Linked DNA regions of Homo sapiens: all the other regions are linked to region 1. The links come from fine-mapping of genetic effects on gene expression. A gene starts in region 1. Each other region holds a variant in brackets. All regions are shown on one strand. Distances are from middle to middle.

The links.
Region 2: its variant is fine-mapped to the expression of TTC39B in platelets (CEDAR, PIP 0.95). The same link has a PIP of 0.9 or more in whole blood.
Region 3: its variant is fine-mapped to the expression of TTC39B in whole blood (TOPMed, PIP 0.97).
Region 4: its variant is fine-mapped to the expression of TTC39B in whole blood (TOPMed, PIP above 0.99).
Region 5: its variant is fine-mapped to the expression of TTC39B in monocytes after interferon gamma (Fairfax 2014, PIP 0.95).

What each region holds. Positions count from the first base shown.
Region 1 is chr9:15,305,271-15,310,597 of GRCh38, forward strand. TTC39B (tetratricopeptide repeat domain 39B) reads right to left here and starts at 1,946. Exons shown (of 20, transcript NM_152574.3): 1 at 1,814-1,946. The coding sequence starts at 1,855. RefSeq lists enhancers at 584-1,147, 1,711-2,273 and silencers at 1,511-1,830, 1,861-2,200.
Region 2 is chr9:15,265,196-15,271,462 of GRCh38, forward strand. TTC39B (tetratricopeptide repeat domain 39B) reads right to left here. Exons shown (of 20, transcript NM_152574.3): 2 at 2,719-2,753. Among named protein-coding and RNA genes, the nearest start is that of TTC39B, 39 kb to the right of the region's middle. The variant C/A (reference allele first, on the strand shown) is at 2,478.
Region 3 is chr9:16,097,533-16,103,799 of GRCh38, forward strand. It overlaps a transcript of CCDC171 not described here. Among named protein-coding and RNA genes, the nearest start is that of LINC03041, 180 kb to the right of the region's middle. The variant ACT/A (reference allele first, on the strand shown) is at 2,623.
Region 4 is chr9:15,946,893-15,951,892 of GRCh38, forward strand. The region is part of intron 25 of CCDC171 (coiled-coil domain containing 171); the gene reads left to right. Among named protein-coding and RNA genes, the nearest start is that of LINC03041, 330 kb to the right of the region's middle. The variant G/A (reference allele first, on the strand shown) is at 2,368.
Region 5 is chr9:15,330,584-15,336,850 of GRCh38, forward strand. No RefSeq gene overlaps it. Among named protein-coding and RNA genes, the nearest start is that of TTC39B, 27 kb to the left of the region's middle. The variant G/T (reference allele first, on the strand shown) is at 3,207.

The DNA.
Region 1 (5,327 bases):
ACTGAGAACCATAAAGAGGCAAAACTATGCCTTCTCTAAGGCACCTACCAAGTTTGAGCCCAAAGTAAATGCTCAATAAACGCTTGCTCAGTTTATAGCAATGGAAGTGGTAAACTGTGAGGGACAAAAGTAAATTTGGCATGAACAAAGAATTCAATTTGTATTTTGCTCATCAACTAGGACTAGTACAGTACCTAGCATGTAACAGAAGCCTAATAGTTAATGAATGAAGAAAAATAAATGAATGATATGGCAAAAACTGAGTTGTTATTAAGCAACATCTTTTCTGCAGTCTTTCATTCATTCAACAAATATTTATTTACCAAGTATCTGTGTGCCAGGCTCTCTGCTACTCTGAAACCTAACTTCCACCCAGAGTTTCACCCACAGAAACCTAACTTCCCTCCTCATCGGCTAATGCATCTCAACCGTTCATCTAGTAGGCAGTGAGCATAGCTGGGGTGACCATTTGTCAAAGTATCTCCGAAACAGTCCCAGTTTACACCTATTATCCCAGTGTTAATTAATAATAGCACCGCCTCAACAATGCCCTAATCTAGAGAATTACATAGTTCTAAGCACAGCAAATCTCCTACAAACAGATCGGGATTCAAATATTTCATTCTACAGTCTTGGGATCCTCAATGCAAGGGACAGGCTGTAAGCAAGGGTCTGGACAGCCCGGCTTGCCCTCTTGTCTCTCTGTCATGCAGAGGAGCTGTAGTTCAGTTTTTGTTTTTTGTTTATTTTACGGAGCACATTTAAAGTATAGTCTTCCTTGTCAGGAGATTCCTGGCACTAAAGAGATGGACGGGAAACTTAACCGCCTCCTCCAGATCGTCCACTATTGCATCATTTGAAACCAAAGCCTTCTAAAGGCAGCGACTCGCACAATTCAAGTCAGGTAAGATGGCAGGAACAGCAGCTGTGGGTGCTGGCTGCTGCTGGAGCCTCGGTCTCAACTTCAAGAGCAGGGAGAGCGCTGTCTCTGGAGTTGCCAGGTGCTGAAATGAATAGTCAATAAATCAACAGGTCCGGCGCGCTAGCCCCTGGGTGCTCAGGCCCGGGCGCGCCACGACTGAAGGAGTGGCTAATTACTCAAACACAGTTGAAACCAAAGGAGGCCGGAGTCGGTTCTCAAAGTGGTTTCCCTCCGGCCACCACCGACTCTGAGGACCTGCTAGGGGAAGTGTCCCGGCCCCGTGGAGGGAGAGGGAAGCACCACAGCCTGGGCTGCGGCTCTAGCCCTCCAGCCCCAGCCCCTGGCAGCCCTGCCCTGCTGTCGCGGCAGGTACCCCTCTACTCATTGTTCCTCAGGCTGCCCCCTCTTTTCATCAATCGTAAGCCTTTCGGTTCTGCCACCAGGAAACTTCCATAGAAGGTGAGATTCCCAGGTCGAGGGATGATTCCACGAACACCCAGAGAGCCAGTGCCAGGACTTCAGGGTCAGACTTCGTAAAGCCCAGGCGTCGCTGGGCCGGCCCGGAACAGCTCAGAGCTGCGGGTCCTATGGTCCCGCGCCCTCACGCCCATCCAAGTGCTGGCAGGACGTGGGTCCTCCATCCCCACGACTCGCGGGGCCGGCGCTCCGAACCTCGGCACTGCGTCCGCTCCGCGCGCCGCAGGGACCCTCCTAGCTCCAGCGGGGACAGACCTACCAAGGCCGGGCGCCCCCACCCGGCGCCCGCCAGCCCACCCCAGAGAGGGGACCAAGGGGGCGGGGCCTCGGCCGTCCTAGCCGGGCTCACTCTTCTCTCCCGGACTCCTGTCCAGGGCTTCAGGGGCCGGGCCCGCAATCCCCATCGGATCGTACCTCGTCCGCTTCCAGCTCCGCTCGGCTGCCTAAGAGCGCCATATTCCTCCTCTGGCTGCTGCCACCCAAAAACCAAGCAGGGAACTCAGAGCCGACTCCTGCTCTCGGCTCTGGGCTCAGCCCAGCGCAAAGGAGGGCAAAAGGGGACGGCCCGGCGCTCCCTCCGGGTCTCGGGCGGGGCCTGAGTGCAGCTACTCGATTTCCCCGCCCCCGGAGCCGGCAGGCCAGCACAGCATCCATTTCCTCCCCGGACGCCGCGCCGCTGGCCGGGCCACTTGCCCGGCCCCCAGCGGGCGGCAGCCCCGCCCAAGTGGGTGGAGTCACCTCCCAGATAAAGTTTCCCGGTCTGGCACGCCCTCTGGGAGGGTTTCCTAAGCTTTCCTGCCGCCTGTTCTCTGCGGTGGCTGGGCACACCTGGAAAGAAGCTAGAGAGCGCGGGCATGACGAAGCCAAGGTCAAAGCAGCGCCCCACCTGGGGTCCGTGGAAGCATCCACCTGGTCTTTGGTCCGGTGCCAGTCCTTTTCCCTCGCCAGGTGGCCACCGCATCTCGCAGATGGTGTGGCCTGAGGGCAGCCTTGGGTCACGGTCACTGGTCCCCGAGAGGCCTCTGACACACCACCCACCTGGACTGTAGGTGGAAGGACTCTGCTTGCTTCTGTGTTCAAAAAATAGAAAAAAACGCGGGACAGAGATTTATACATATTGGAACTCCTCTACTTCCCCCTACCCGGACAGTGTATTCTCCCCATAGCATCCTGTATTTTGTAACTCCAAACATAGGTGTATAATTCGTGCTTGAACTATAAACTCCATGGGGGTAGGATGCTATCTGTCCTCTTCAAGACTGTATCCCCAACACCCAGAACAGTGTCTTGCACATCGTAGGTGCTCAACAGATATTTGTTGGCTGAGTTTAGAAACTGAACCTTGCTTCTGACATGTAAAATAACTGGAAAATTAAAAGCTAGATCTTTAAGAGTTTGGGGGAGAGAGGTCAGATTTACTTTACATACAGAAAAATGCACCAAGTTAAATGTGTGATTCAGTGACAAGTGTTTACAAAGCATCCCAGTCATAATATAGAACATCCTGAAAAGTTTTCTGTGACCCTTTGCTGTCAATTTCCTACCTCCGCTCCCTAGCCTCTGTCAATCACTGATCTGCTATCAACATCGATTTGCCTTCTCTAGAATTTCATATAAATTTAATTAGAGCATGTGGTCTTCCATGTCTGGCTCATGAAAGGCTATTTAATAGTCATCCAGTGATAACTGTAAAAACAGCTAATAGTTCTTGAGTCCTTACTATGTGCCAGGACTCTACTGAACCTCTTGCATATAGTATTTCATTTATTCTTCATAACCCCATAAAGTAGGGTGCTGTTCTCTTTCAGATGAGTAAACTGAGGCTCAGAGAGTTCAAGTAATATGCCTGAGGCCAGACAGCAGTTAAGTAAGTAGGGATGCCAGCATCTGAACCCCAGCAGTCTAACTCTAGGGCCTAGCTGATAACCATTGCTTTGTACTGTACTGGCTCTAGCCACCCTCCCTCTCTTTCTTTCTGTGTCAGTAGAGCAGTTGTCTGTGCAAGTCCATTACATACATTTTCAGTGAGTCACTTTGCATCCTTAATACTTGCTGTACAATTTTAATGGCTTGGCATGTACTTTTGTACTAGAATAATAAAATGGTTTCTACAGCAGAAACATTGAAAAAATGGGTTAGATCGTGTGATGGTTGCTCAACTCTCTGAATTGTCTAAAAATCCTTGAATTGTGTACTTACAATAGGTGGAACTTATGATTATGTAAATTATATCTTAGTAAAGCTGTTTTAAAAAAACTAGCTGACACAGGCTAGGTGTGGTGGCTCACGCCTGTATGGGATTACAGCACTGGGAGACTGAGGAAGGAGGCTAACTTGAGTTTAGGAGTTCGAGACTAGCCTGAGCAACATAGCAAGACCCAATTTCTAAATAATAATACTTTTTTTTTTTGAGAGACAGTTTCACTCTCATCTCCCAGGCTGGAGTGCAATGGCTCGATCTTGGCTCACTGCAACCTCCGCCTCCTGGGTTCCCACTAATCTGTAAATTGCTTAGAAGGAGGCACTATCTTATTCATCAGTGCAGGTACTCAATAAAAAAGCTCCAGGTGCAGTGGCTCATGCCTGTAATCCCAACACTTTGGGAGACCGAGGCGAGCGGATCACGAGGTCAGAAGTTCGAGACCAGCCTTACCAACATGGTGAAACCCAGTCTCTACTAAAAATACAAAAAGCAGCTGGGCATGGTGGTATGCGCCTGTAATCCCAGCTACTGAGGAGACTGAAGCAGGAGAATTGCTTGAACCCTGAAGGCGGAGGTTGCCGTGAGCCGAGATCGTGCCATTGCACTCCAGCCTGGTGAAAAGAGTGAAACTCCGTCTCAAAAATAATAATAATAATAATACTTTTATTATTTAGAACACATGCTCTGAACACTTAGAATCAGATGGACCAGAAGAGACATAGAGTTTGTTTAATTCCAATACCCTTGAAAGTTTCCATTCCTTCCCAGACCCCCAACCCACTCCTACCTCCTCCTATGTTTCACTTTCTGAGGCTAGAATTCCTATCCAGGTCCAGATTCTACTCTGTATTACTCATGCATGGTTCTGTTTTTCAAAGTTCATTGGTTCCTGAATTGATAGCACATCCTTTTGACATGAAGCCATCTCACTGGTAGCTTCTTCTCCCATATGCTGTTATTCTGCCTTTGGAATTTCAACTCTTCAAATTTTGAAGAGATCCAAACAAACTTCGCTCTAATTAGTGACAGAATTATGTTATAATGAAAATCGAGTACAATTTTTCAAAAATCTATACTTATAATTGAAGCTTGATTGGTGTTTTTGTTGTTGAATTTTTTACATATCAGGGATCAAACCTGAAGTCTCGTATGTTTTAAATTCACGGCAGGAGATAAGCAACATTCATGTTTCAATTATAAACACTGAATGAATAAATGTATTCTAGCCACTGGAACGTCTAATCAAATTTGCTTTGCTCAGGGCAGCTGTCAGCTTTGCCTATACAAGAGTGATTTTATCGTGAATCACAAATATAAAAGTTTTTCTTCAAAGAACAATTAGAATGGATTTGTTTTTACACAGAATTCCCCTTGCAAGTTTGCTGATAATGTTATACTCTAGCAGTCAAGTGAGATTACTCAGATATTCCATATCCCAGAAGTAATTAGCATAGAGATCAAGCAAGAGGGTATCTGAATCATTTCATTTTGAAGCCACACCTACTGGGAGCTGTTTGTGTTTCAAAATAAATCTAATATTGTAAACAATCTAATCTTCAGTATTCCTGAACATGTTACCTTTAGCTGATAGTTTTTTGCTGGTACTTGATTTAAGTGAAAATTGAATCTTCATGATTTGTGTGGTAGGAGAAGCTCAAATCCATGAAATAAGTGCTCATTGTAAATCATGTGTTTGTCAGTGACTTTGTCTCACATTCGTGTCTT
Region 2 (6,267 bases), 40 kb before region 1:
CTAATAGATGTTAAAAAAACTGCTTGCAATGCCTTCCTGAGGTCCCAAAGGTAAAGCCACTACCAGCCTACTGAAGCCAGTGGGAGCTCAGAGAAGCACAAGCATCAATGTGCACTGCTCAGGGGTCACACTGCTCCCACTGGTCAGTGAGACCCGTCCTCCTCTGTGAGGTCTGCACCCCTCTCTGTTGTGTGTGGCATGCTAGCTCCCGCTGGGAAAAGCAGTGTCTCCTCTGGTGAACTCCAATCACCAGCCCCAAGGCCTGATCCTTTTCCATCCCCTGGACTGTGATCACCTACTATAGCCCAAGCTCAATTCCTGCCAACACCAAGGGAGGAGCAGGGTTGAATAATTATAAGATTTCTGAATGGCGATCACTTGCCCACCATAGAAGTGATTTCTTAAAAATCACATAAACAGATTATCTTCCAAAGAGTACTGTATAAAAAGGGAGGAGGGGAAAAAGGGCAACTTCACAGTGGAAAAACCTGACAAACACTACCCATGCCATGTGACCAAGTTCAACATCGGTAGTGCTAAGTCACATTGATATCGTGGATCTTTGCTATGATGTGATAAGAATGGCCCTTTCCATCTGGGGTCTTCTTCCCAAAAACACATGACCACAGTCAAATCATGAGGGGGGAAAAACAGACCAATCTCAATTAAGGGCCATTCTACAAAATAACTGACAGTACTCCTCAAAACTGTCAAGGTCACCGAAAACGAGAGTCTGAGAGACTGTCACAGCCAAGAGGAGCCTAAGGGGACATGACGACTAAATGTAAAGTGGTATCTTGGGTGGGATGCTGAGGCAGAAAAAGGACACTAGGTACAAACTAAATAAATCTGGATAACGTATGGACTGTAGTTAACAATAATATATCCATATTGATCATTAATTGTGAGAAATGTACCATGCTAACTTAAGAAATTAATAATAGAGAAAACCTGGGTGGGGTACACAGGAATACTCTGTACTACCTCCTCAATAATTCTGTAAGTCTGAAACTGCTCCTAATTAATAGGTTAATCCCAATCACAATTAAGTTTTTTTTTTAAAAAATCATATAAACATGAAACTTTTGGACAAAATAAAAATGTATAATACTAAAATAAAGAAAAATTGCAGTCTGGAGGAAATATCTATAGCAAATATGACAAAAGATTAGGGTATATATAATTTAAAGTCCATAAGTATGTTAAGAGAAACATTCTGAAAAAAGCTAAGAGACAAAAGAAAATTAGAAGTCATACAAAAGATGCAATGTATTTTTAAAATAATTTTTAAAAATACTAAAGTAGGTATCATTTAAGTTGCAAAACTGTTTTTGAAATAATACCCAGTGATGATAATGTGACAGTTTAAACCACTTTGCTTACATAGTATTGGTAGCCAAGTAAATTGATAATACTCCTGTGGAAGTACTGTAAAACAAACGGTGCCCCTCTACCCCCACCTGTACATGCACATGTTCAAGCCCAAACCCCCAATGTGATGGAATTTAAATATGGAGCCTTTGGGAGACAATCGGATTTAAATGAGGTCAGGAGAGTGGGGTCCTCAGGATAGGATTAACACCCTTATAAGAAAGGACATCAGGCAGGGCGCAGTGGCTCACGCCTGTAATCCCAGCACTTTGGGAGGACAAGAGGGGCAGATCACGAGGTCAGGAGATGGAGACCATCCTGGCTAACATGGTGAAACCCCGTCTCTACTAAAAATACAAAAAAAATAGCCTGGCGTGGTGGCGGGAGCTGTAATCCCAGCTACTTGGGAGGCTAAGGCAGCAGAATGGCGTGAACCTGGGAGGCGGAGCTTGCAGTGAGCCGAGATCGTGCCACTGCACTCCAACCTGGGCGACAGAGCGAGACTCCGTCTCAAAAAAAAAGGACACCAGAGAGCTTTTGCTCTCACTCTCTCGGCCATGTAAGAACACAACAAGGAGGCAGTCTGCAAGCCAAGAGGAGAGCCCCTACCAGAATCCCAACCATGCTGGCACCCTTAACTCAGACTTCTAGCCTCCAAAATTGTGAGAAAATAAATTATTGTTGATTAAGCCACCCAGGCTATTGTGTTTTGTTATAGAAGCTGAAGTTAACTAATACAGGAAGGCAATTAGAGATATACAAAGAACAATAAACATATTCATCCCTTTTAATTCAGTAATCCTACATTTGTTATGTTAACCTTTAGAAATAATTCAAAATATAACAAAGCTATACACATGTAAAACTTAGTTCTACATTTCTAAGCCAGTGACAACCTAAATGTCTAACAATGGAGAAGCAGGTAAGTAAATTGTAATATTCCATTTGATCTAATATGATTTAGCAATTTAGAATTATTACAAAAACTATATAGGCTTACAGTGAATGCTTTTAATAAAACTAAGTGCAAACCAAACACAAAAATCTACAAAATGAGACTGACATAAATATGAACAACTATTAAAAGAGTTAGCTATAAACAAATA[C/A]TTTGTTGAGAAATATTTTATTTTGTTACAAGAAATAATACTCAGAAATGTATCTGAAAGTATTAGATAGATCCTTTCTTAAATATAATCACATCCTCTTTAATTATAGAAAAGTGACTTTTTTTTTCTGAAAATAGCCATTGCCGTACTCTCCAAAAAATGAGAATGAAATATTTACTTTTTATGTAAGACAACCATCAATTTTTCCTTACTACATACTTTTTATTATGTTATTACTTACATTGAGATGGTTTCCAAGGCATCTTCGAAAACGTCCTGGGGGAAATAAAAAATACAATGAGTTTCTCAAGAATTCTCAATGGGTTTCTCAAGAATTCTAAAAGAGAAAATGAATACACGCATTGGGGAGAGTGGTCCTGGCAGGAAGGTATAGCAGGCAGTAGAATCAATCAACTTAACGCTTATGGAATTCTGTTTACAGAAATCAAGCAGATGCATTTCAGTGACGTTTAATTTTTTTTTTAATAAGGCTGGTAAAATACTCAGCAAGTGATCAAACTGGCCTAATTTAAAGAGACTATGACGTCTTTTATGAAGTTACCTTTCACTCCTAAATCTCATTCTTCCCAACTATAGAGTAAAATAAATAAGAGGACTTGCCCGATGTAGTCTTTTCTTTCTCCATGGCTAGCCAAGTGAGCATCCTCTGGGCCTTCATTTCACATATTGCACCACCCTCTCAGCTCGTCTCCCTGCCACCAGCCTTTCCCCCAGTTTACTCTGTGCCACACAGGATAGCCCTTTGCTTCATGCCACTGGCCTGATCACAGCTGCAACAGGAGAGAAACGCACACAGTCATATGCACTCAGAAGACCACACACACACTCCACACTCAGACACAGTGACTCACACACAATCTCACAGTCACACATACAAATACACATGCACTCACTCAAAAACTCACACATTCACAACAGCTCCCTCACAGCTGCAAAAACCAAACCTAAGCTCCTCATCCAGGTATCCGGGGTCCACCACAACCCAGCTTAATCTTCCAAGCATCCTTCTCTGACATCCCTACCACTCTTACCATAGCCCAAGCCACGAGACCTCCAAAGGGCCACCTCACTGGTCTCCCTACTCCTGTGCTTGACACCCTCCATTCAATTCTTCACATGACAACAATATCATTCTTTTACTTCATGTTTTTGAATAAGCATACACCATTCCAGTTTTCTAGACCTCTTCAAGAGCTTTCCATTGCATTTAGAAAAATCCCAAACTCATTCTCCCTATCTACAGAGCCCTAAAACAGCCCCGCCAGCCTCTGACCACATCCCCTTACTCACTCGACTCCAGCCACAGGTCTTTCTTTCCGTTCCTTGGACAAGTCAAACATCCCACAGCTCTCTGCACTGTCCCCTTTCTTATAATGTCCTTTGCTCAATTATTCCCATGGCTGACTCATTCTCATCCTTTGATTTTCAGCTTAGAAAGCCACCTCCTCAAGAAGAACATCTCTGATCACCCTAATTAAAATTACTAGGAATAGCAGCTTACATAAAGTTCCTCATCATTTCATTTGTTTCATTCATAGCACTTATCATAATCTCTAATGATCTTCCTTGTTTACTTGGTCACCCTCTGTCTCCATCAGAGCAGGCTCTTACATACACAGAAAAAACACCAGGGCTTCGCACCAGGGTTTGCTCAATAAATACTTGTTGCCTAATGAATGAATGAATGAATGAATGGAACCTGGACCGCCAAGGGACTTACCGTATCACACCTCATTTAGAGTTATGCACAGAAATGAGGAAAGGGGGCTAGGGATCTTTTCCCTTGTGTGGCCATTAATACTGAACAAGGTTTAGACCATACTGGATTCTGCGGTGAGGCAGAAAAAACAAAAGTGTAAATACTAAAAAGAAGAACCTGGCCAGGCGCAGTGGCTCATGCCTGCAATCCCAGCACTTTGGGAGGCCGAGGCGGGTGGATCACAAGGTCAGGAGTTGGAGACCAGCCTGGCCCACATGGTGAATCCCTCTCTCTACTAAAAAATACAAAAAAATTAGCTGGGCGTGGTGACATGCACCTGTAATCCCAGCTACTTGGGAGGCTGAGGCAGGATAATCGCTTGAACCTGGGAGGCGGACGTTACAGTGAGCCGAGATCATGCCATTGCACTCCATCCTGTGTGACAGAGTGAGACTCCGTCTCCAAAAAAAAAGAAAAAAAAAAAAAGAAGAACCGACTGGACCTGGTGGCTTACACCTGTAATCCCAACACTTTGGGAGGCCAAGGCTGGTGGATCACCTGAGGTCAGGAGTTTGAGACCAGCCTGGCCAACATGGTGAAACCCCATTCCTACTAAAAATACAAAAATTAGCCAGGCATGGTGGTGCATTTCTGTAATCCCAGCTACTTGAGGAGGCTGAGGCACAAGAATCACTTGAACTCAGGAGGCGGAGCTTGCAGTGAGTCAAGATTGCCCCACTGCACTCCAGACTGGGCAACAGAGCAAGACTCCATCTCAAGGAAAAAAAAAAAAAGTTGTAAACAGTGGCAGAACTGAGTTTGAGTTTGGGACCCTGACCTATTAATCTACATTAATATCATACTCCATAAGGGAGGTAAAATCAAGGGCCAGCACACAGGTTATCATGTGAGTAGTTACAGAGAAGGGAGGAAAACGTATTCTCCAGGAACCCAAATCTCACTATGATAAGCCCAGCTCATAGTCCCTCCGGCAGCTCTGCAGACTCCCTCTGCACTTACCAACAATAGGGTACATGGACAGCCCACTCCTGGGAGCCTTCTGTGCCTTCTCCTCCTCCTCACAAACCTCAGCATGGACACTAAAATACTTACTGAGTGAGCGACGCAAAGGATAACTTGGGAAGCCAACCCTCCGTGTAAAGAAGATAAGACTAATATTTTCATCTAAACAAGAAGTATTCCCACCCCTCCATCAAAAAAAGAAAAAAAAAAAAAAGAATATCAAGCCAGGTGGTGCACACCTGTAGTCCCAGCTACTCGAGAGGCTGAGGTAGAAGGATGGCTTGAGTTCAGCATGGACAGTATAGTAAGACCCTGTATCTAATAACTTTTTTATTTAAAAAAAAAAACACGATTTCAAGAATATCGAAACTCTCCATTTTGTTGAAACAGTAATCACGGGGCAGAGAGTTTTCTAAATAAAGCATATGTGGTCTATAAAGGCCAGACAAAAGGTGGAAGTGTCTTAATTTTAAAAAAGGAAAGGTGAAGAGAAGAACTAAGATTTACTGAGTACCTATCATGTGCCAGGCACCTTACAACCTTACAAAAGCTATTTCATGTGTTCCTCCCAACATACAGCAAGTTAAGCCAGTTGTAGTTTAATTACTTGCCCAACATTACACAGTGAAGAAACTGGGGTTCAATCTCAGGCTTAAAACCAAAGCATTTTATTAATGTCAATACAAACTATCTAAAACTTGGAAATTAGACAGTTGGGCAGGATGGGGAGGGGGTGGGAGATGAAGGGGTGCCATATCCTCTCAATGTAATATGGTAGCATTGTTTTACAAGCCTCCCAAGGATTATTTAACTCTCTAGAAGAGTGTATTTGTGTTTAATTTTGCCATCTGCTGTCTGATTGGAGTCCGCACACTGTGAAGTTACATGTTGACTTACAGGATTTTTAGTGGCGAAAAAGACTACCTCAAAGATTATGATTTTGCTGCTCAGTGAGACAGCAGTTCCCAACCTTTTTGGCACCAGGGACTGGTTTCATGGGAGACAATTTTTCCACAGATGATGGGGGACAGTGAGGAGATGGTTTCA
Region 3 (6,267 bases), 790 kb after region 1:
TACACAGCTAGTGTGTTTCACAGGCAGGAGCTGAACACAACCTTTTGGATTTCAATGAGCAAGCATACTATCTCAAAAAAGGATGAATCTTTACCTAGCATGATCCTTGAATGTTTCCAGTAGATGAGGCATGACCATATACTTCTATGTTCTGCTAGTTTTGCCAGGGCAAGCCTTGCTAAGACTGCCCTGGGTTTAAGGTGCACCATTTACAAAGAGGCTCATTGAGATAAATAAGTGCATCTCTCAGAACGAATCTGATCTGTGTTATCGGTGAGAATCCAGACACAGCATCATTGAACTTCAAATGTTGCTACTGAGTTAGAGAGAAAAAGAGACTGACTGACTTGCATTTCTGCCTTCTTTGCACCCCATGCATCCTGCCCTAGGTGGTGATCAACTTTATGTTGGTACCAGTCAGCTTCATGTTAGGAAATGTTATATGGAACTAGCAGTTAGCAGTGCCTACTGTGAGAAATAAGGAGCTAGTCCGAGCTTTAAAGGGAAAGAGACACGAAAACAATCAGCGTAGCCTTTGTAGCCAAGTGTTTTGTTCAATGCAATCCATTAGTTATTGAGAACATACACATCACGGTTTAAGTCAGAGTTCGGCTATCTTTTAGCTGAGAGACTTTGGGCTAGCTAACATCGCTGAGCCTTTTTTCCCCTAATGCATAAAATGGGGCTAATATTATTACCCTAACTTACAGGGTCATTTTGAAGAGTTCATTACATTCAAGCATGAACATGTGCTTTAAAGTGTTTAAAATGTAGTGGGTCAAAACAAATGGTCTCTAGTGTCATCATCACCATCATTGTTGTCGTCGTCGTCATCATCATCAAGGACTTCATAGCCTGGTTGGAAGAATATGTGAATAAGAGCTGCTATTTAGAAAAAAATGTGTTCATTCTGAGCAGTTTCCCTCAGAAGGAGAATAAGAAAGCTGGCTTTGGTCCACACTCTTGAGTGTTGGAGTAAGCCACCTAATTTCCCTGAGCCCCAGTTTTGGCATATGTACAATGGGCTGATCATATGTCCGCTTCCCAGTGTACTGTGTTAATGAAGTCGATGAAATGAAATCTAGTACCTTAGAACACAGAATTACAAGGGATTAAGAGTGCTCCTAACTTAAAACACTACTAGTTGGGTTTTTGCCACCTTGAATTGCTGTCTCAATTCACAACCAGTGTTTTAAAGATCCCTTTCTGTTTTCAAAAACAATTTATTGATCCATTTTCCTATGGAATATTCCCCCTTTGAAGAAATAGACTTACATGTGTTAGCCAGAGAAAGCATCTAAATTGGGAGTGGGGGAGCAATGATGGTACAGTGTGCTGTGCACATATGTGGGCACGGATGTTCCTAGAAAAATTGAGACTGCTCTGAGGATTTCCAGTGCCAAGTCCTGCATCAGGGAGGGCTCATTTTGTAGCTCTGACATAGGATGGATATAATAAGCCCTTATTTGGGAAAGCTTTCATTTGGGGGAAGATTTTTAATAATTTTTCTTAAAACTGAAAAACTGGTCAATATCAAATCCAGTTGATTCCAGACTGTTTAGAGAGTGACTGTCATGTGTAAGACCCTGGGTTTGAAAAATTCATCTCTTTAAGGCTTATTTAAAACATCAATTTTTTGCTAATTCTTGGAGATTTAATAAAGCACCACCAGGCTTTTAGATACCCTTAGAGGGGTTAACATCAGAATTCTTCTTAGGAGCCTTGGTCTGTGCCATTGGGGTGCACCCTGTTCCCCCTGGTTTATTCTGCTAAGTTTCATTTCACAACAGAGGAAAAGTGGCAGAGGAGCCTCCAGGCTGGGAACATGGATGGGAAACGCCATCGCAGTGGCTCTCAGAAGGTTCTGGTGAGCAAGGCTTCACAAACACAGGGCAAAGATGTGGCAGGTGAAGAAGCACAAGGGAGCGTGATGCAACCTGAAGACGAATCAGCTGTTTCTGATTTATTGTTGCACACCATTTTCTAAGCATTTCTGATGTCCTTTTCATAAGAAAAATGCCATGAGCTTCCCTAGCGACTTCTGAAACAAGTCTCTGAGAAGCAGCTTGTGGAAGGCACCTTTGTAGGAGGTGCATGAAGGGGGCATCCAAACTCCCATGAGTCCATCCCAGTTTGCCATATTCGTGGGCTTCTGGTGGGTGACCACAGTCTGCACTGATTTGGCAATGAGATAGTCTCAACAAGAAAGAGATCGCACAACAAAGTCATTTAACAAGGACAATGATTAAGAAAAAGACTCAAATAGATCCTCTTCTGCAAGTGGTTAGGGAACTCAGAACAGACACAAGTTAGTGCATGTTGGCCAAATATGAAGATGGAAAGAAAGAATGATTATAAAGACATCCACCCACCCTCTCACTGGCCATTGCTTGCCTGTGGAAAAAGGCCAGTCTATGACAAACTAGAGACTCTTTGAGAAACCAACGCTGTATGGAGATAGCTTTCAAGTTAAAAAAAAAAAAAGAAAAATCTAATCCAGGCTTTGCAAAACATCAGTGAATGCATGTAATACCAGCAAAACCTGAGCTTTCAATAAATCAGAAAACAATGGGGGCATTGTCTGAACTCACCAAACAGTCCTTCGCTCCCACAGCACAGAAC[ACT/A]CTAATCTGTGTGCAGCCAAAACTCAGCCCCATCTTATTGAACTAAATTGATTTATGAGAGGAAAAACCTAAAAAGGGAAGCAGCAAAATGATGATATTAATTCTAATAATGCATTGACTGGTGCTTATATAAATCACTCTCCCCACTCAGATTGATTTCATCCGAGTAAAAACGCCATGCATAAGCCTATCTCCAGCCGCTCAGCTCAGGCAGCTACCTCAGGCCTCCTCTTGCAGATAGAGCTCAGGATAAAGGGTGGGGGGTCTGGTGGAAGTTCACAGGTATTTTGCCTGAGAAAGGCCTGTGGGATCAGCCCCAGAGGTATCGATGTAATTGGCCACACACACAAATGTTGCGGCATCTGAACATTTTTGGCAGCTCATGAAAGCTCCTTTCCTAGAGGCCACTTGAGTGTCCAAATAAAAGGGGATTTTTGTTAGTGAGAACTGGAAAGAATAACCCATCTTAGGATCAGGCTAATAGGGCCTGGCCTGGTAAAATGTAACACTGGGCTGGCCAGAGTTGGAAGTGTTGCTGGCAAGGGTTGGAAGCAGCTGCGAGGAGAGCCAAGCCTCGCTCCCAAGGAAAACTCTTCTGCTGGTTCAGGGGAGTTTTCTGTAGCCCAGAGAGCCTGTCAGGCGCCCCCCACCCCGCCCCCCACCAAGGGCAAGAGCTTCTGTTGGGGCAGATGGGAGGGGGCCTGGGGTGGTTTCTTGCTCCCCCTTCACCCAAGCTCTCCTCTCCGATTCCCTACCCCATCCCCCAGGCTCTGTGATTCTAGGCAAGCGAGCCTCTGTGGCTGACCTCTGTGGCCTGTTGCTGCACACAGCCTGGGAACGGCAGTTGCTCTCAGTGAGTATGCAGGGTGTTGACAGGCTCAGGCTGAAGGAGCTAGGAGGGAAGCAGAGAAAGCCGGGCTGCAGAAATAAGGCCACAGAGGCCTTCTCTTATCACCAAAGGGCCCCCAGCTGAAGAAAGGTCTACTGCTTCTTGCTACACAAAGGAAATACATTCTGCTGCAAGCCAGTCTCTGCCTTTCAGCAGAGCCTGTAGGCTCTCCACCTAGGGTGGCCAGGTAACATACAGGGCACCCAGTTAAATTTGAATCTCAGATGAACAATGAATAATATTTTAGTATACATAGGTCCTGAATATTGTGTGAGAAATAATTAAAATGTATTGTTTATCTGAATTTCAAATTTAATTGGGCATCTTGTATTTTTATTTCTTCTATTAGGCAGAATTCTGAGATGCTCCCCAGTGACCCTCCCTCTGGTATAATGTCTTACCCCAAAGTGTAGGTGAAACCCGTGAATGTGATGCAACATCACTCCTGTGATTATGTTACACTACATGGCAAAAGGGATTTTTGCAAATGCAATTAAGCTCACTAATCAGTTGACTTTATCAAGTTAAAGAGCAAATTATCTGGGTGTGCCTAACCAAACTACATGAACCCTTTAATTCTGGGTCTAGAGTCCAGAGAAAAAGGAAGTCAGGCCTTTGAAGCAGTAGAAAATTGTCCAGTGACCTTGAAGGAGCAAACTGCTGTGTTGTGGAGAAGGCCACAGGGCAGGGAAGAGTGGTCAGCCCCTAGGAGCTAAGAATAGCCTCCAGTTGACAGCCAGGAAGAAAGCAGGGAACCTCAGCTCCATGCTGCAATGAACTGGGTTCTGCCAACAACCTGAGAGCTGGGAAGAAGCCCCAAGCCTCGGACAAGATGGCAGGCCTGGCCAACACCTTGACTTTGGCTGTGTGAGACCTGAGTAGAGAACCTGTCCAGAACATGCCAGACTCCTGAACCAGGGAAACTTTGAGGTATAAAAATACACGTTGTTTTAAGCTGCCGAGTTTGTGGTAATGTGTTCTGCAGCAATAGTAAACCAAAACACCTATTAAATCTGGCAGCCCTCCCTGCATCCTGTGGTCTCCAGCGTACACTTACAGGGGTTTCTGGTGTAGGCACCAAGGACTGAAGATGAAGAACAGTAAAGGAAACAGATGCACTGGACTAACTCCTGTGAGCCTCCTCCACAGTCAAAGAGCAGGGCTAGAAGGGAAATTACGATATTGTCTGTTTTGGTGTCCGTGTCCTGGCCTCCTGGACCCTGCAGCCCCAACATCTCAGTTGAGATCTGTAGACATATACACACGCGCTTGCTCTCCTACACACCTTCCTTTCCAGGGAGGATTGCGGGGGATGAGCTTGTCACTTGTCTCAGACGGATGTAGTTGCTGGCTCGCTAAGTAAACAGGTCATCTCAGCCAAAGTTCATTATGGATCTGAAGCTGTAGAAACAGATGCATTTCATGTAAGGATAAACGTGTGTTGGGGGGGGGCGGGGGTGGGGGCAGGGGGGAGGGTGGGTACAAATATAAACAGGGAAGGTGAAACCGTCTAGAACCTCCTTAGGCATGGATTAAGTTTCTGTGAAGATCATGTAAATAAGCCCTCATAGTCTACAAGAAACTCGGATATCTTTTTTAAAAGGGTCAGAAGATCTGTTTGTGTTTTGCAATTCTCCAAATGTTCTTCTGCTTATGGATTCCCCTAAATTCACTTTCCAACAGCTCTTCGTCCCCCTGGCCTCATGCTGCCCTTGAAAGTGGCCGGAGGAAACTCTTAGGTGTCAGGCAGTCAGCATGGAGAGCTTCTTTTCATCCCCTGAGTGTCTGGAGATGTGAGTTTAATGAGAGGCATCGACCTTTGAATTATACAAATGGACCTCTTTAGCAATCACTTCCCTCCCCAGTCCATACCCACCCTCAGCTTTTAATCTTCTCAATTATATTTCCTTTCCATTGATTACTACTTTGCTAACTTTCGGATTGAGCAGGCAGAAAACCTCAGCCGCACAGGTAATGCAATTGCTCTTCAAGCTTTGACGCCTGCGTCTCACCTCCTGAGGGGACCTGCAGGCCCCCCTCCCACCCTTTTGGGTCTTGGCAGGTCCATCGGCCTTCAATTGATTTTGCAAGATGGCCCCTTCCATCCAAAGAGCTGTGCAATCCTGGTTAGGAAGATGGAGTTTCAGTTCTGAGCTTTAAGTAACAAAGATAAGGGGGATTTGCATGCTGGCAGGGTGTGAGAAGGGCACTCACAGTCACCAGCTGTTTGCAGCTAGGCCTGGGAGTGGGCAAGGGATGGGCCTGGGAGCAGGGAGATCTGGGTTCCTTCCCCACCTCTGCTCTGATTTTTTGAGTGACCTTCATTGAACCACTTAACTTTCTGTGCTTTCCTCTCACTGCCATCTGTAAGGGGGAAGACAACGGCACTTGTCTGTGAAAATGCTTTGAGGGATACTGGCATAAAAGATGCAATGTAAAAGCAAGTGATGGGCAATGTTTTCCATAAAGAGCCCCTTGTTTTCATCTGCAGGAGGCCTCATTTGAAGGCTAAGAAGAAAAATTGAGAAATGTCCTTGGTAGCCGAGGCCAGGCAGAGGACGTGGCTTGGGACCTGTTAGAAATCCCTTCTGTGGCTGGGGGCTCCTGCGCTGCTGCCGGGATGTGAGCTCAGCAAGGGGCATGCTGGGAATTGGCCTGCAGAACAAACAGATCCGAGGTCTCTGCACCGAGCAGGACCAAGGGCCATATCAGGATTAGCCCAGTGACCTGACAAGCGGCGAGGGGGGCCTGCCC
Region 4 (5,000 bases), 640 kb after region 1:
ATTGATGACGGGGAGATAGCACTTTTATATATAAACACTTTTTTTCTGAATTACAGGGTTTTGTTGTTTAGGTTGTACAATTAGCATTTTAATCTGTCTCAGTTTTATTGTATCATAAGAATCTGTGATAATAAAATTACATTCATTTAGAAACTAAAAAACATGATTCTAACAAGTCAAACTAAGTTGGGATTTTAGAAAGACAACAAATACCTATAATATGAATTTGGATAATGGAAGAACAAGTGATGTGTGTCACCATTGTTATAAACCCTTTCTACATATATTTATTAGAAAATTATAGTTGCATATATATCATAGAAATTCTGAGACCTTAACATTCATAGACGTTAAAAACTTATAGGGTGTTTGTGGAATTTATGGATAAAAGCTTATGTTATGACATCACTAAATACACTTTTAAAATACCCTACTTGTATACCCATTAAACAGTAATTTCCCATTTCCCCCATCTCCCTAGATCCTGGCAATCACCATTCTATTTTTTCTCTATTATTTTGACGACTCTAAGTATTTCATATAAGTAGAATTCTACAGTATTTGTCTTTTCGTGCATGGCCTATTTCACTTAGCATAATGTCCTCAAGGTTAATACATGTTGTAGCATAGTAGCATATATCAGCATTTCCTTCTTTTGTAGGGCTGAATAATATTCCATTGTATGTATATAGCACATTCTGCTTATTCAGTCATCCATTGATGGACATGGGTTACTTCCTTGTTTTAGCAATTGTGAATAATGTTCCTACGAATGTGGGTATACAAATATCTCTTCAAGACCCTACTTTCAATTCTTTCAGGGTTATACCCAGAAGTGAAATTACTGGATCATTTGGTGATTCTATTTTTTTTTCCCAGTGGTTCATAATGGGCATACAAGTATGCTTCCATATTTTTTTTAATTTTTTTATTTTTTTTTAATTTATTATTATTTAGGTTTTAGAGTACATGTGCACAATGTGCAGGTTAGTTACATATGTATACATGTGCCATGCTGGTGCGCTGCACCCACTAACTCATCATCTAGCATTGGGTATATCTCCCAATGCTATCCCTCCCCGCTGCCCCCACCCCACAACAGTCCCCACAGTGTGATGTTCCCCTTCCTGTGTCCATGTGTTCTCATTGTTCAATTCCCACCTATGAGTGAGAATATGTGGTGTTTGGTTTTTTGTTCTTGCGATAGTTTACTGAGAATGATGATTTCTAATTTCATCCATGTCCCTACAAAGGACATGAACTCATCATTTTTTATGGCTGCATAGTATTCCATGGTGCATATGTGCCACATTTTCTTAATCCAGTCTATCGTTGTTGGACATTTGGGTTGGTTCCAAGTCTTTGCTATTGTGAATAATGCCGCAATAAACATAGGTGTGCATGTGTCTTTATAGCAGCATGATTTATAGTCCTTTGGGTATATACCCAGTAATGGGATGGCTGGGTCAGATGGTATTTCTAGTTCTAGATCCCTGAGGAATCACCACACTGACTTCCACAATGGTAGAACTAGTTTACAGTCCCACCAACAGTGTAAAAGTGTTCCTATTTCTCCACATCCTCTCCAGCACCTGTTGTTTCCTGACTTTTTAATGATTGCCATTCTAACTGGTGTGAGATGATATCTCATTGTGGTTTTGATTTGCATTGCTCTGATGGCCAGTGATGGTGAGCATTTTTTCATGTGTTTTTTGGCTGCATAAATGTCTTCTTTTGAGTAGTGTCTGTTCATGTCCTTCGCCCCCTTTTTGATGGGGTTGTTTTTTTCTTTTAAATTTGTTTGAGTTCATTGTAGATTCTGGATATTAGCCCTTTGTCAGATGAGTAGGTTGCGAAGATTTTCTCCCATTTTGTGGGTTGCCTGTTCACTCTGATGGTAGTTTCTTTTGCTGTGCAGAAGCTCTTTAGTTTAATTAGATCCCATTTGTCAATTTTGGCTTTGGTTGCCATTGCTTTTGGTGTTTTAGACATGAAGTCCTTGCCCATGCCTATGTCCTGAATGGTAATGCCTAGGTTTTCTTCTCTGGTTTTTATGGTTTTAGGTCTAACATTTAAGTCTTTAATCCATCTCGAATTGATTTTAGTGTAAGGTGTAAGGAAGGGATCCAGTTTCAGCTTTCTACATATGGCTAGCCAGTTTTCCCAGCACCATTTATTAAATAGGGAATCCTTTCCCCATTGCTTGTTTTTCTCAGGTTTGTCAAAGATCAGATAGTTGTAGATATGTGGCATTATTTCTGAGGGCTCTGTTCTGTTCCATTGATCTATATCTCAGTTTTGGTACCAGTACCATGCTGTTTTGGTTACTGTAGCCTTGTAGTATAGTTTGAAGTCAGGTAGCATGAT[G/A]CCTCCAGCTTTGTTTTTTTGGCTTGGGATTGACTTGGCGATTCGGGCTTTTTTTGGTTCCATATGAACTTTAAAGTAGTTTTTTCCAATTCTGTGAAGAAAGTCATTAGTAGCTTGATGGGTATGGCATTGAATCTCTAAATTACCTTGGGCAGTATGGCCATTTTCACGATATTGATTCTTCCTACACATGAGCATGGAATGTTCTTCCATTTGCTTGTATCCTCTTTTATTTCATTGAGCAGTGGTTTGTACTTCTCCTTGAAGAGGTCCTTCACATCCTAGGTATTTTATTCTCTTTGAAGCAATTGTGAATGGGAGTTCACTCATGATTTGGATGTCTGTCTGTCTGTTATTGGTGTATAAGAATGCTTGTGATTTTTGCACATTGATTTTGTATCCAGAGACTTTGCTGAAGTCGCTTATCAGCTTAAGGAGATTTTGGGCTGAGACGATGGGGTTTTCTAGATATACAATCATGTCGTCTGCAAACAGGGACAATTTGACTTCCTCTTTTCCTAATTGAATACCCTTTATTTCCTTCTCCTGCCTAATTGCCCTGGCCAGAACTTCTAACACTATGTTGAATAGGAGTGGTGAGAGAGGGCATCCCTGTCTTGTGCCAGTTTTCAAATGGAATGCTTCCAGTTTTTGCCCATTCAGTATGATATTGGCTGTGGGTTTGTCATAGATAGCTCTTATTATTTTGAGATACGTCCCATCAATAGTTAATTTATTGAGAGTTTTTAGCATGAAGGAGTATCAGCGATGGAAGATGAAGTGAATGAAATGAAGCGAGAAGGGAAGTTTAGACGAAAAAGAATAAAAAGAAATGAGCAAAGCCTCCAAGAAATATGGGACTATGTGAAAAGACCAAATCTACGTCTGATTGGTGTACCTGAAAGTGACGGGGAGAATGGAACCAAGTTGGAAACACTCTGCAGGATATCATCCAGGAGAACTTCCCCAATCTAGCAAGGCAGGCCAACATTCAAATTCAGGAAATACAGAGAACACCACAAAGATACTCCTCGAGAAGAGCAACTCCAAGACACATAATTGTCTGATTCACCAAAGTTGAAATGAAGGAAAAAATGTTAAGGGCAGCCAGAGAGAAAGGTCGGGTTACCCACAAGAGAAGCCCATCAGACTAACAGCAGATGTCTTGGCAGAAACTCTACAAGCCAGAAGAGAGTGGGTGCCAATATTCAACATTCTGAAAGAAAAGAATTTTCAACCCAGAATTTCATATCCAGCCAAACTAAGCTTCATAAGTGAAGGAGAAATAAAATCCTTAACAGACAAGCAAATGCTGAGAGATTTTGTCACCACCAGACCTGCCCTAAAAGAGCTCCTGAAGGAAGCGCTAAACATGGAAAGGAACAACCGATACCAGCCGCTGCAAAATCATGCCAAAATGTAAAGACCATCGAGACTAGGAAGACACTGCATGAACTAATGAGCAAAATAACCAGCTAACATCATAATGACAGGATCAAATTCACACATAACAATATTAACCTTAAATGTAAATGGACCAAATGCTCCAATTAAAAGACACAGACTGGTAAATTGGATAAAGAGTCAAGACCCATCAGTGTGCTGTATTCAGGAAAGCCATCTCACGTGCAGAGACACACATAGGCTCAAAATAAAAGGATGGAGGAAGATCTACCAAGCAAATGGAAAACAAAAAGAGGCAGGGGTTGCAATTCTAGTCTCTGATAAAACAGACTTTAAACCAACAAAGATCAAAAGAGACAAAGAAGGCCATTACATAATGGTAAAGGGATCAATTCAACAAGAAGAGCTAGGTATCCTAAATATATATGCACCCAATACAGGAGCACCCAGATTCATAAAGCAAGTCCTGAGCGACCTACAAAGAGACTTAGACTCCTACACATTAATAATGGGAGACTTTAACACCCCACTGTCAACATTGGACAGATCAACGAGACAGAAAGTCAACAAGTATACCCAGGAATTGAACTCGGCTCTGCACCAAGTGGACCTAATAGACATCTACAGAACTCTCCACCCGAAATCAACAGAATATACATTTTTTTCAGCACCACACCACACCTATTCCAAAATTGACCACATACCTGGTGATTCTATTTTTAATTTCTTGAGGAGCTACCATAATGTTTTCTACACTGTTGTACTATTTTACATTTCCACCAACAGAGCAAAGATCCTAATTTCTCCATCTTCCATTTGCTTGGTAGATCTTCCTGCCAACACTTGTGATTATCTGTTTTTTGTTTGTTTGTTTGTTTGCTTGTTTTTTTAAGTAGCCGTTCTAATGGGTAGGAGGTAGTATCTCATTGTAGGTTTGATTTGCATTTCCCTAATGATTAGTGATGTTGAGCATCTTTATATGTGCTTATTGGTTTGTTTGTTTTTTGGAGAATGTTGATTTAAGTCCTTTGCCCATTTTTTAAATCAGGCATTTTGTTGTCATTGAGTTTTAGAAGTTTTCTATATATTCTGGATATAAATCCCTTAACAGATACATGATTTGCAAGTATTTTCTCCTGTTCTGTGGGTTGCCTTTTTACTCTGTTCATAGTGTCCTTTGATGCACACAATTTAAAAATTATCAGGAAGTTCAATTTGTCTGTTTTTTT
Region 5 (6,267 bases), 26 kb after region 1:
AGCAGCTGGAAACTGAGAAGAGAAATCCAGGAAAAGGGAGAGGTAGAGAGGAGAAGCTTCAACTTCTCTGGGTATTACCCTTTCGCTGAACCTGGCTGACGTCTGAACCAGGCACATATGCCAACTCCAAGCTGCCCAGATAAGGTTAAAATAACCAAACTAAAATTCTGCCACTCACTGCAAGGAAAAAAGTGAAACTGTTGTGTTCAGCCAAGGCAACCAACTGATTTATTTAAAAAATAAAAATAAAAAACAATACTATTCAGAGGCTCTAAAAGAATCCAACTCAAACTCCGGTGTGTTAAAAGCTATCTTCCTACCTACTGCACCTTACCTCTTTACAATCTATTTAATCTCTTTTTAAGCTTTGTTAGATGGGAATGAGAAAATTAGCACATCTTTCTGGAAAACACTGTAGCAAAAAGTAACAAGAGTTTAAAATTGTTTGTACCTTTTATCCTTCCTGGGACAAGAGGACACCTTTACAAATTCACTTCTTGCTTTTAGGTAAGTAAAGGAAGGGCAGAGAACTTTTCTTGTATCTGCTTCCTCTCAGTTGCCTTCAGCTCAAAATAATCTTCATGCCAAAGTGGCATATTTTGGGTTTGCATATTCTGCTACTCTTAAGTTTTTAATCATAGCACTATTTTTCATTTGTAAAATTGCATATTACCTACGAGACAGGGAAAGATTTAAAAGTTTCATAAAATGCTATGTTGGAAAGGCTTATTGTTGATATTGAGTTGTTGTTGTTGTTGTTGTTGTTGTTTTTGAGACAGGGTCTCACTCTGTCAACCAGACTGGAGTGCAGTGGCATGAACACAGCTCAGTGCAGCCTCAATCTCCTGGGCTAAAGTGATCGTCCCACCTCAGCCTCCCATATAGCTGGGACCACAGACATGCGCCATTACACCTGGCTAAGTTTTTAAATTTTTTCTAGAGATGGGGTCTTGCCCACACCAGTCTTGAACCCCTAGACTCAAGCAATCCTCCCATCTCAGCCTCCCCAAGTGCTGGGATTACAGGTGTGAGCCACTCTGCCCGACCGATACTGAGCTTTTCATTGCAACAATTCTAATGAGGGCAATTTAGCAATAATCAACCAGAATTACAAATTTCCTGCAATTCCACATCTGGGAACTTATCCTACAGATATACTCACATATATGTGAAACTACCTATGTGCAAGGTTACTCATTGCAGTGATATTTTTAACAACGCAAATTTGGGAACTACTGAAACCATCCATCAGTGAGGGATTGGTGGCCAGGTGTGGTAGTTTGTGCCTGTAATCCCAGCACTTTGGGAAGCCAAGACTGATGGATGGCTTGAGTTCAGGAATTCAAGACCAGCCTGGGCAACATGGTGAAACCCCATCTCTACAAACAAAGTACAAAAATTAGCTGGGCATGGTGGTGCATGCCTGTAATCCCAGCTACTTGAGAGGCTGAGGTGGGAGGCTCGCTTGAGCCTGGGAGGTGGAGGTTGTGGTGAGCCGAGATCAGCCACTGCACTCCAACCTGGGTGACAGCATGAGACCACATCTCAAAAAAAAATAAAAGAATTGTTGATACTATAAAACAATGGAGTATTATTATTCAGCCTTAAAAAATAAAAATAAAAATGCCAGGTGCAGTGGCTCACGCCCATAATCCCAACACTTTGGGAGGCTGAGGTGGGCAAATCGCCTGAGCTCTGGAGTTCGCGACCAGCCTGAGCAACATAGTGAGACCACCGTCTCTACAAAAAATACAAAAAAAAATTAGCCAGGCATGGTGGTGCATGCCTGTAGTCCCAGCTACTCGGGAGGCTGAGGCATGAGAATCGCTTGAACCCAGGAGGCGGAGATTGCAGAGAGCCAAGATGGCACCACTGCACTCCAGCCTGGGGGACAGAGCGAGACTCCATCTCAAAAAAAAAAAAAAATTAAAATTAAAAAATAATAAAAATAAGGATTCTCCTTAAGTACTAACATTGAATCATTGCCAAGATATATAAAGTAAAATAGGCAAGGCACAGAACAGTATTAATTGTTCCCTATTATTCTTTCTCCCTTCTTCCAAAAGTTTTAGCCAGACACATGACCATCAGGAGTAGACTACATTTTCCAGTGTCCCTTGCAGCTAAGAGTGGCTATGTGATTGAAGTCTCCTCAGTGAGATATGAGCAAAACTATTATGTGGCAGCTTCCAGGTCCCTTCCTTAGACAGAGGTATTATGTGGCCTTTGTTTCTCCATTGGACACATTCTTCATTGGATACACTCCATCCTGCTCCCGGGAAAGTAGTTCTCTCATCTTGGTTCATGATTGAACTGGAAGAAAACCAAGTCCCTTTTGGAGCTCACACACATCACAACTCTGGACCACTCTTGGAATTTCGCATGACAGTGATATAACCATCTTTTTTAAACCATTATTATTTGGGGTTTCAGTTATTTGAAGCTGAACCCAGACCTATCTCTTACACAAGTATAAATTTTGCAAGACTTATATCTGGCTAAATTGCCTGCAGAAAGATTGTGTCAATTTGTGCTGCAATAAGTGCTGTATAAATGTGTACAGAGCTTTTTTTTGCCACACTGTGCCATCTCCTGGATACCAGATGCCAACTGCTCGCTGGATCTAGAGACAGGTAAAAAGAATCTACAAATGTGACCTGGATGCCAGGACAGGCAGAGGCACCAGTACCAGCAAGAAGCTTCAGAAATAGAGTAGTTATTAAAATGACCATTTGCAGTGAGAAAATAAATCACTACAAACTACCAACTACCAGAGGCTAGGAGATTCAGGTCCCTTACTTGTGACATCTCTTTAGGCAATTTATCATAAATGCTTTTATATGGATGCATCCTGCTTACAATCTGGCTTCCCCTTCCGCTTAGGTCACCCTTTAACTCTCTGTAAGTCCCAGCACCCACAGAATCTGAGCAAGTGAAGGACCAGGAATTTTAAACCTCAGTAAAGTCCACCGTGCTGTTAATGTTAATCTGCCCTGAGCAGACACACCTTGTAAATACTCTGAGAATAAGGTTCAAAGTACCAAGGGCACTTGAGGAGGACATGGCTTTGCTTCAGTCAGGGAAGATTTCCTAGAAAAGTTAATGCTTAACAGAAGCCAACAAAGAAATGAGTGAAAAACGGAAGAGGAACTAGGATTTCTGCCCAGTTGGGAATTTTGGCGTTTACAAAACACCATTGAAACACT[G/T]ACTCAATTATCATCTTCCTCCTGGAAAGACAGAAGTCTTCCCTATGATGTTAAAGAGGACACATTTTCTTTTTTTTTCTTTCATCTAATTCTCAAAATAGTTTCTTTCTTTTATGTTTTAGATTCACTTTTTCCATCTGTTTTTTAATCTTTTCAGTATAATGCCCATTCTTAAAGACCAAGAGATTAAAATTGAACACCAGCTTTCATTAGCATCCAGGTCAAAAATATATATTAATATGTGCATTTCTAAAGGTAAAGTTCTAGTTAGGTCATGCTCTAACCTATAGACATGAACACTCATAAAAGGGAATTTGTTAGGAGGCCAAGGTGGGCGGATCACCTGAGGTCAGAAGTTTGAGACCAGCCTGACCAACATGGTGAAACCCCATCTCTACCAAAAATACAAAAAATTCGCCAGGTGTGGTGGCAGGCGCCTGCAATCCCAGCTACTTGGGAGGCTGAGGCAGGAGGATCGCTTGAACCCAGGAGGCGGAGGTTGCAGTGAGCCGAGATCGTGCCACTGCACTCCAGCCTGGGTGCGACAGAGCGAGGCTCCATCTCAAAAAAAAAAAAAAAAAGAGAATTTATCATAGCTGAGGTCCGTGTTGTCATGGAGACAGAGGTAAGGGCTCCTCTGACAGATGTTCTCGTTCCTTTTGATTCCTTACTCTTCATTCTCTTTTCTTCTCTAACTACAGGATTCCATATATACCTCCTCTGACCTAACTCCTAAAGTTTTTCTGACTTGACCCTTTTCTCATTCCATGTGCTATCTCTCTGGATCATCTTATCCACTACCCTTGTAAACTGTTATCTTTAAATAGAGGATTTTCAAGTCAACGGCTCCAGCCAGACTTCCACCCAGCTCCAAGTCTATGTTTCCATCGGCCACCTTGACATCTCCTCTCACACTTCTCCTGGTGCATCAAACCTCTCCCAGTCAGACTGCGAGAAAACTCAGTCATTATTGACTCACTCCTCTTCCTCATCACCATATTTGATCAATCACCGAGTTCTATCATTTCACCTTTGCAATGCCTATTCTCTTCATCTGCCCAGAATATGGGTAAGCAAGCCCCAATCATTTCTCACTCGACTTTTCAGGAATCTTGCCAACTCCAATTCCTTGCCTCATCAATGGATGCTTTTCGTTAGGGAGGCAAGATGGCACAAAGTGGCCAGGTTCCAACCAGGGTCAAATAGAATCTCTGCTCCCCTGCTTTGTGCCTCCTAGCAAGTCATCTCCTCCAGCTAAACCACAACTGCTTTATGTAGAAAATGGGGCAATAACTCATAAAGATGTGGTAAGGAGTACATAAAATAATCTATGCAAAATGTCTAGTACATATAAGTACTTAATATATTTTACCTGGTTTTTTTATTTTGTTTTGTTTTTGTTTTGTTTTTGTTTTTGTTTTGAGATGGAGTCTTGCTCTGTTGCCCAGGCTGGAGTGCAATGGCACAATCTTGGCTCACTGCAACCTCCACTTCCTGGGTTCAAGCAATTCTCCTGCCTCAGCCTCCCAAGTAGCTGGGACTACAGGCATGAGCCACCACACCCAGCTAATTTTTTGTATTTTTAGTAGACACGGGGTTTCACCATGCTGGCCAGGCTGGTCTTGAACTCCTCGCCTCGTGATCCGCTCACCTCAACCTCCCAAAGTGCTGGGATTACAGGCATGAGTCACTGCACCTGGCTTTATTTTACCTGTTACAGCATAACTCTTAACGTCTAACACATCATGAAGCCTGTATTTGTATAAATACAGGCTTCACCATGTGCTAGACATCACTAGTGCACACTAGGGCTTCTCGCCTTTGGGGCACATGGAAGACTTCACTTCCTAACCACCTTCCAGTTAAGTGGGACCATGTGACTAATTCTAAAAAATGAGCCAAAATGTAGATTGGGTATGAGATTTTGATGAGTTTTTTTCTCCCATTTGATGACCAAGAAGGCCATGTGTTCCAGGTGGCACTTCTACAAGATGGTAGAGGCTCCTCAGCCTGGGTCTCAAGTTGCAATAGATACCAAGTATGAGCAACTCAGATTGGGGAGCTGCTATTATCACAGCAAAGCTTAGCAGGTGGTATCCCAACTAATACAGGACATCTCATTTCCTACTTCTCAATCCTGGGGATAGGCCCTAACACGTGTAAGATTTCCTAAAACAAATGAACTAGCAGACAGCAAAAGTTCTAGTTATTTAGGGACAAAGGAATGTCTGCAGTTCTCATTTATTTTCCAAAGTTATTACATCTGTATATATTTACTTATAAGTGATTTTAAAAACCAAATGAGGCTGGCATAAGCAAAATAGGAAACTGATTAACATATGTAAATTAGATGTCCAAGAGCCGACAAGTATTGGGCATGCTGGATGCAGGGGCTTAAGGTAGATATCAAGGATTCATTCTTGCCCTTTTCATAGCTCAGGTCTCTTTTCTTTTGTGATAGACGCATTTGCAGACAAAGTCTTCTCTTTTATTGGAAAGATGATTGCCAGCAGCTCCAAGATTACGTTGCTTTCTATTAGCTCTTACAAGTTTTCTAACTTGAGCACGAAGAGTGATTCTTTCTCCCAACCATTCTGGTAAAAAGTCCTGGGATACAATCTAACTGGACCAAAGTCAGTCATATACCCAGTGCTAAACCAGTAAATATGACCAGAGAAATAAGATATTCTGATTGGCCACTCTACACCATGTGTCTAGCCCTGATTCACAGGGTAGGGCCATCCACAGTGAAGCCACATGGACTAAAACAGAGGAATGGAGGTTCCCCAGGAAAATCAAGGAACTACTACCAAAGAAGACAGAATCGACACAGGGTAGCTAAAATGATAGATGTTCACTACAGACATTAATACAATGCACCTGGCAATGTTGGTGAACTATGTAATCAGTTAAGGAATTTTATGAAGTCCTGAGTATAAGCTTAAAACCTACTATGTCTGCCTGACCTTCAAAGGACCATCTTCCTTCCAAGTATTAGGTTGGTGCAAAAGTTAATGTGGTTTTGCACCAAAGAAATACATTGCAAGGTTCAAAATAGCCT